Linked DNA regions of Homo sapiens. The protein of the gene in region 1 interacts with the protein of each later gene in a pairwise test. Each region holds a gene or a part of one and is shown on either strand. Other genes may lie near its edges.

What was found.
Region 2: the proteins of COL26A1 (region 1) and PCMT1 interact in binary tests that used the Homo sapiens proteins (3 or more experiments, as listed by UniProt).

Annotation. Positions count from the first base shown.
Region 1 is NC_000007.14:101,540,813-101,544,562, reverse strand, and holds part of COL26A1 (collagen alpha-1(XXVI) chain isoform 1 precursor), read right to left. Parts: intron 566-3,750; coding exon 467-565; intron 1-466.
Region 2 is NC_000006.12:149,787,741-149,791,490, reverse strand, and holds part of PCMT1 (protein-L-isoaspartate(D-aspartate) O-methyltransferase), read right to left. Parts: intron 1,538-3,750; coding exon 1,433-1,537; intron 1-1,432. UniProt on the Homo sapiens protein: Initiates the repair of damaged proteins by catalyzing methyl esterification of L-isoaspartyl and D-aspartyl residues produced by spontaneous isomerization and racemization of L-aspartyl and L-asparaginyl residues in aging peptides and proteins.

The DNA of each region.
Region 1 (3,750 bases):
CAAGACTCCATCTCAAAAAAAAAAAAAAAAAAAAGCCAGGTGAGGTGGTGGCTCACGCCTGTAATCCCAGCACTTTGGGAGGCCAAGGTGGGTGGATCATCTGAGGTCAGGAGTTCGAGACCAGCCTGACCAACATGGTGAAATCCTGTCTCTATTGAAAATACAAAATTAGCCAGGTGTGGTGGCGCATGCCTGTAATCCCAGCTACTCAGGAGGCTGAGGCAGGAGAATTGCTTGAACCCGGGAGGCAGAGGTGGCAATGAGCCGAGATGGCATCACTGCACTCCAGCCTGGACAACAGAGCGAGACTCCCTCTCAAAAAATTAAAAAAAAAAGACCCCGTTTTTCTGGTACCCAGCAAGATCAGGGCTGTGGGTGCGTGGGACACCTCGCCTGTTCCAGTAGAGAAGAAAGCCCAGCCCCTTCCGCAGGTTGACAACATCACATATGTGGGGGGTTTTCTTACCAGGCGGCCCCGCTGGACCCTTCTCTCCTGTCTGGCCTCGGTCACCTTTAGACCCGGGGGGGCCTGCAGGCCCTGGTGGTCCTGTCTGCCCCGGGGGCCCTGGGGAGAGAAGGAGACAGGGCATCAGAACATGGTGGACCCCCAGCCTCCAGTGGCTCCAGGCCTGGCCCCCTGGGCTGTCAGCCTACGTTCCCCCAGGAGCCCTGCCTACCTGGGACTCCCTAAACAGGCAAAGGCACTCACATCACCTTGGAGCTGGTTATTACAACTTACAAACCAGCTTTGCACTTACAAACATCTATGATTCTAAGAACTGCTTTCGTTCCCATTTTCAATGTGGGGAAACTGAGGCTCAGGAAGGTTGGTCCCTTGCCCAAGCTCACACAGCCAGGCTGCAGATGAAGTTGCTTAGCTCCAGGTCCCTCTCTCACACCCTGCTGTCTCTCTGCTTAGGGTCAAGAACCGGGCTTGTGGCAAAGTGCTCCCCAACAGGTGGCCTCCGAGGAGGCCCCAGGAGGTCCTGAAGGATGGATCTTCCCAGCTACAGATCTCTAAACCCCAAGGGTGGACAAGGAGATGGAGAGGTAAGGCTTGCTGTGTGGCCAGGGGACAGCCTTTTCTCCCTCTGGCCCAGAGAGGATGCTGAAAAATGTTTGCTCAGCACCTTAGGAGGCTGAGGCAGGAAGATCACTTGAGCCCAGGAGTTTGAGACCAGCCTGGGCCACATAGTGAGACCCCATCTCTACAAAAGATACAAAAGTTAACCGGGCATAGTGGTGCACGCCTGTGGCCCCAGCTACTGGGGACGTTGAGGTGGGAGGATGGCTTGAGCCCAGGAGGTCTGGGCTGCAGTGAGCTATAATCACACCACTGCATTCCAGCTTGGCTTACAGAGCGAGACCGTCTCAGAAAAAAAAAAAAAGTTTGCTGATCTGATGAAGGGACCTGCACTGAGTCTTAGGGCCCTTTGCACTCTGCCTGCATGGGACTGTGGTATGGTGGGGAGGGCCTGGCTGGGGGCTGCTGGCCTCGGAAGAGCCCCACCTGCGCTCTGGAATCCAGGTTGGCTGCAGGTGTCACCATGTGTAGAGTGTGTGCCCCACCTGGTGGCCATTCTTGAAACTGCATTTTCCCCTGGTTGGAAAGGTCTTGCCAGGCATGCGCTTTCGTGGGCCTGGGTCCCCGGTGGGATGGGAAGCCCCTCCTCCTCCATCCCCCAAGAAAGATCTGAAGAATGTGGGCATGAGGTAACGCTCTGGGGGTGAGACCTTAGGGACAGCGGCTCGAGGGGTAGGCCGGGGGCCAGAGTGAGAGAGGTCCCCCTTCCCGTAGGAGACCTGAGCTCGGCCCTCCTCCCGCAGCCTTCAGTCCCTTTCCAAGAATGCAGGATACCCTACTCTCCTTCCCCGGCCCTGGGACTGGCCACTGGAGGCCACCTGTGTCATGCATCTCTCCTCCCTGCTCTGCCCCTGCTCCCCAACCCAGCATCAGAATAGACACTCAGAACAGAGGGCAGAGGGAGAGCGCCCCCTCCAAAGGGCTCTAAGGGCAGAGAATCATGGAGGCAAAATGCCCCCAGCTTGCTGGCTTGCTGGGTGACCCCAGGGGTGTCACTTAACTTCTCTGAGCCTCAGGTGTCTCCCCTGTAACCTCAAGGCTTCCAAGCTTTGTGTGAAGATTAAGAGTGATATCTGTAGGCTGGGTGCGCTAGCTCACACCTGTAATTCCACACTTTGGAGGCCGAGGCGGGTGGATCACTTGAGGTCAGGAGTTTGAGGCCAGCCTGGCCGACATGGTGAAACCCCGTCTCTACTAAAAATACAAAAATTAGGCTGCGTGTGCTGGCTCACACCTGTAATCCCAGCACTTTGGGAGGCCAAGGAGGGCAGATCATTTGAGGTCAGGAGTTCAAGACCAGCCTGGCCAACATGACAAAACCCCTTCTGTATTAAAAATGCAAAAAGTAGCGGGGCTTGGTGGTGCGTGCCTGTAATCCCAGTTATTAGGGAGGCTGAGGCAGGGGAATCCCTTGAGCCCAGGAGGCAGAGGTTGCAGTGAGCCGAGATCACGACACTGCACTCCAGCCTGAGTGATAGAGTGAGACTCCATGTCAAAAAAAAAAATTATATCTGTATTTGAAATATTTTCATATCTGATATGAAAATATTTAATAACTGGCACAGTGCAGATCCTGACCACTCATGGTAGACCTCAGCCTTCAACCCCTGGATTCAGCCTTATAGACAGGTGTTGTTTGCTAAATGTCCTCCAGGATAAAGCCCCACCTCAGTGTCTGGCAACCAGGAGGGCTTCATCGATTGCAACTATGATTATTACAATTGTGATTAAAGCAAAGGTAATTACAGCCCCAGGTGGCAGAGCCCAGACCAGTAGGTAGAATCTGCAGAGGGAAAATTCTTCCCCTTAACTTTAAAATGTGGCCAGGGCCAAGCATGGTGGCTCACACCTGTAAATCCCAGCACTTTGGGAAGCCGAGGCATGAGGATTGCTTAAGGCCAGGAGTTTGAGACCAGCCTGGCAACGCAGTGAGACCTCGTCTCTACTAAAAATTAAAAAAAAAAAAAAAAGCCAAGTGTGGTGGTGTGCACTCGTAGTCCCAACTACTTGGGAGGCTGAGGCAGGAGGATCACCTGAGCCTCGGAGATGAAGGCTGCAGTGAACTATGATCATACTACTGTGCTCCAGCCTCAGTGACAGAGCAATACATTGTCTCAAAATAAAATAATAAAATAAAATAAAATTGTAAAAGTGTGGCAGGAAGGCAGGGGGGCAGATGTCCTCCAATTCCAGCCAGAGAGTTCAGAGAGCAAACCCCAGAAAGAGGTGGGAAGCAGTAAGTTCCTGCTCCCTGGCCAGGCAGAATGCTGCAAAATTGAACCCAGCAAGGCTGGGCTGGGGGCCATAAGTGCAGAAGCCAAGGAGCAGGGCAGATACTGAAGACAGTAGCTGAGCTGTAAGACAATAGGGAATGGTGGGGACTGCGGCAAACTGCACAGCCTGGACTGGACCTACAGTGGCAACCCAGTAGCTGGTTGTTTCCATGAGGGACTGCCAGCCCTGATGGCCAATTTTCTCATTTTTATTTTTATAATTTTTTGTAGAGACAGGGTCTCACTATGTTGCCCAGGCTGGTCTTGAGCTCCTGGCTTCATGCAATCCTCCCACCTCAGCCTTCCAAAGTGCTGGGATTATAGGTGTGAGCCACTGCACCTGCCCAAGATCATCTATTTTTTTGAGACAGGGTTTCACCCCGTCTTCCAGGC
Region 2 (3,750 bases), on another chromosome or scaffold:
CTGTCCTCCAGGCACGATATTTCTCAAATCAAACTGATGTGATGATCTAAGCAATGATCAACCTTTACTCCAACATATATTAGTGGGTCCCCAGTTAATACTCTGGATAGCCATTGACCAGATAAGACTCTGATGAGAAAAGGCAGAAGTATAACAAGGCATTATTTTTCTAAGAGCACTTTTTCTAATGCAGAAGTTTTACCTTCATCCTGGTAAATCTGCAGGAATGTTTAGAAACCAGGCTCATTCTGGGCAGGGACAGTGGAGAGGGTGCTGGGAAATGAGTCCCCTGGGAGACGGGGCCCAGCTACGATGCTAAATATCTCAGGCTCCTGAGTGACTGGATTTCCCTGGGACCCTCAGACATGTCCCAGGGCCCGGTGGGGAAACTGAGGCCTGTACAAGGAAGTAGAATTCTGAGTTGTCGGGGCTAAGCCTGACCCCCTCTCCATGCTAAGCCCACCCCCCACACTGTGCCTCAGTAGGTTTTTGTTGTTGTTGTTGTTGCCCAGGCTGGAGTGCAGTGGTGCAATCAAGGCTTACTGCACCTCCACCTCCTGGGCTCAAGGGATTTTCCTGCCTCAGCCTCCTGAATAGCTGGGACTGCAGGTGCTCCACCATGCCTGGCTAATTTTTCTATTTTTAGTAGAGATGGGGTTTCACCACGTTGGCCAGGCTGGTCTCGAACTCCTGGCCTCATGTGATCTGCCTGCCTAAGCCTCCCAAAGTGCTGGGATTATAGGTGTGAGCCACCGCGTCTGGTCCCTCAGTAGGTTTTAAGGAGCCTCCAGCCTTCCTTCTCCCCTTCTGGGCCTGACCAGCTATACTGCTCTGTCTCCCCCAGCCACATGCCCCACCAAGTACTGTAGAGAGTCCCCTACCCAGGGTCCCTGCACCATGAGATAAGGTGAAATACCAACTGTGGACCAAATGCAATAAAACCTCTGTTTTTAAGAAGAAAAAAAAAAAAAAAAGAAAAGAAAACCAGGCTTATTCTATTCTTTTCTGCCAAATCAGAACTTGGAAGAAGGTAGTTTGGGAGCTACTGGCCACCATCTTGTGATTACAAGGGTAGAGCTTACCGGATAATGACACCAACATGTGGAGGAAAGTAAAGCCAAATCAAGAAACAGAGAGAACCCTATCGTCAATAACAACATCTGCTCTTCTAAATCCAGCCACACAACAGACCGTATACACCCCTAGACTTTTCTGTTATATGAACTAAATAAACTCCCTTTTAGCTCTGCCAGTTTGGGTTGCATGTTCTGTCACTTGCAACAACAACAAAATCCTAAGTGATGCTCATTCCAACTGCTATCCTAATAGAATTAACAAACAAATAAACATGAAAACCACTAGTTAAAAAAACATACAGCCAAATCATATAATATTCTTCTGTTGGGGCCAGAGTGAGAAATAAAACTCTTACCATACGTGCAAAACATGCAGTAAGGATTCCACTTCCAGATCCTACATCAAGAGCTTTAGCTCCTTCATGCAACTGATCAAATAGAAGTTCTAGCGCATATGCATGCTGCCAAAAGAAAACAAAATATTCATTAAGACTAAAGTACACACATCATGGTATATAAATAAAGTTGCCAACTTTCTACCAATTTTTCTACTATTGTCATCTACCAAGATAACCAAGTTATCTTGGCTATCTGCCCAGGTATTACTTAAGTAAACTGTTTGATTAGAATTCTTACATTCAGATCATGTGTTTCAGTAATTTTAGACCTCCAGTGTGTGAATTTTTAACTTTTAATTAATTCAGTAAAAAAATTAAAAGATTTATAAGTGAAAAGTCTCCACCCTACTCCCATTTCCAACCATCCAGGTTTCACTCTGTAAAGGTAACCAATATTACTAGTTTCTTGTGACTCCTTCCAAAAAGGAAGGAATAGATTCTTTGCATATATAAGCAAATACAAAAATACAAAGGCTAATTTTGTATTTTTAATAGAGATGAGGTTTCTCCATGTTGGTCAGGCTGGTCTCGAACTCTCGACCTCAGGTGATCCGCCCACCTCGGCCTCCCAAAGTGCTGGGATGACATACATAAGCCACCACACCCAGCCAGTATTCTCATTATTAAAAATAATCAGATCAGGCTGGGCGTGGTGGCTCAGGCCTGACATTCCAGCACTTTGGGAGGCTGAGGCAGGTAGATCACGAGGTCAGGAGTTCAAGACCAGTCTGGCTAAGATGGTGAAACTCCATCTCTACTAAAAATACAAGAAAATTAGCTGGGCATGGTGGCAGCCACCTGTAATCCCAGCTACTCGGGAGGCTGAGGCAGAGAACTGCTTGAACCCGGGACGGGGAGATTGCAGTGATCCGAGATCATGCCACTGCACTCCAGCCTGGGCTGTAACAGAGCGAGACTCCATCTCAAAAAAAAAAAAAAAAAAAAAAAAATCAGATCCAATAGCAGTAAACACATTTACTACCAGATCTTGGTTGATAAAAATACCCATCCATTAATCTATAGTGATAAATTAATACATCATTCTATACATATATAAATGAAAAATAGGGAAAACCGTTCCCAACAAATATATAGATACATAATGAATGCACATAGAAAAAATTAAGAAAATCAGCCTTTGGGCAGCCATCTCAATAATAACTGATTGATTCAGGTAAAAATCATAAATGGAAGCTAAAACTAGTGGACTAACATTTGAAAAATAAACAGGATATTTACATAATCTCAAAGGGTTTGCCCCAGATAATTATTAATCACAAAAGGAAAAATAGTAATTTTACAATGGAGTTCAGAAAAAAGTTCTCCAGTGGAAAAACTGGGTCAACACTACCTTAATCAGATGATCAAAGTTAACACCACAATTATGGGACACACTGACATCAAATGCCTCTGCTAAGATACTTCATTTCTGGGATATGCCAGGCAAAAATGCATAACCTATATTGAATTATGAGGAAACATCAAACAAACCCAAATTGAGGGACATTATACAAAATAAATGGCCCATATTCGTAAAAATTTTCAAGGTTTTCAAGGTCATAAAAGAATAAGGAACCATTTCTCAGTCATTCTTTAAAGGAAACTAAAAAGACATGACAATCAAATAAAACTCACAATCTACTATTTTCTTTTCCTATAAGGAATATTATCAGAATAATTGATGAAATCTGAATAAGGTCTATAAATTGGCTAATAGTGTTATATCAATGCTGACTTCCAGATTTCAAAAATTGTACTATGGGTATGTAAGAGAATGTCCTTATTTTTAAAGGTAAAGAGCATTGGCCGGGCACAGTGGCTCACACCTGTAATCCCAGCACTTTGGGAGGCCGAGGCGGATCACGAGGTCAGGAGATCGAGACCATCCTGGCTAACACAGTAAAACCCCATCTCTACTAAAAATACAAAAAATTAGCTGGGCGTGGTGGTGGGCGCCTGTAGTCCCAGTTACTTGGGAGGCTGAGGCAGGACAATGGCGTGAACCCGAGAGGCGGAGCTTGCAGTGAGCTGAGAACGTGCCACTGCACCACTGCACCCCAGCCTGGGCGACAGAGCAAGACTCCATCTCAAAAAAAGTTAAAGGTAAAGAGCATTATGCCTGTAATTTACCCTCAAAGAGCTCAGAAAAACGGAAATATAATACACACACATACACACACACACACACACACAGAGGAGAGAGGGGATAAAGGGAGAGAGAATAAATGATAAAGCAAATGGTGAGATTTGCTTTACCAATGGTAAGACTGTGTGGA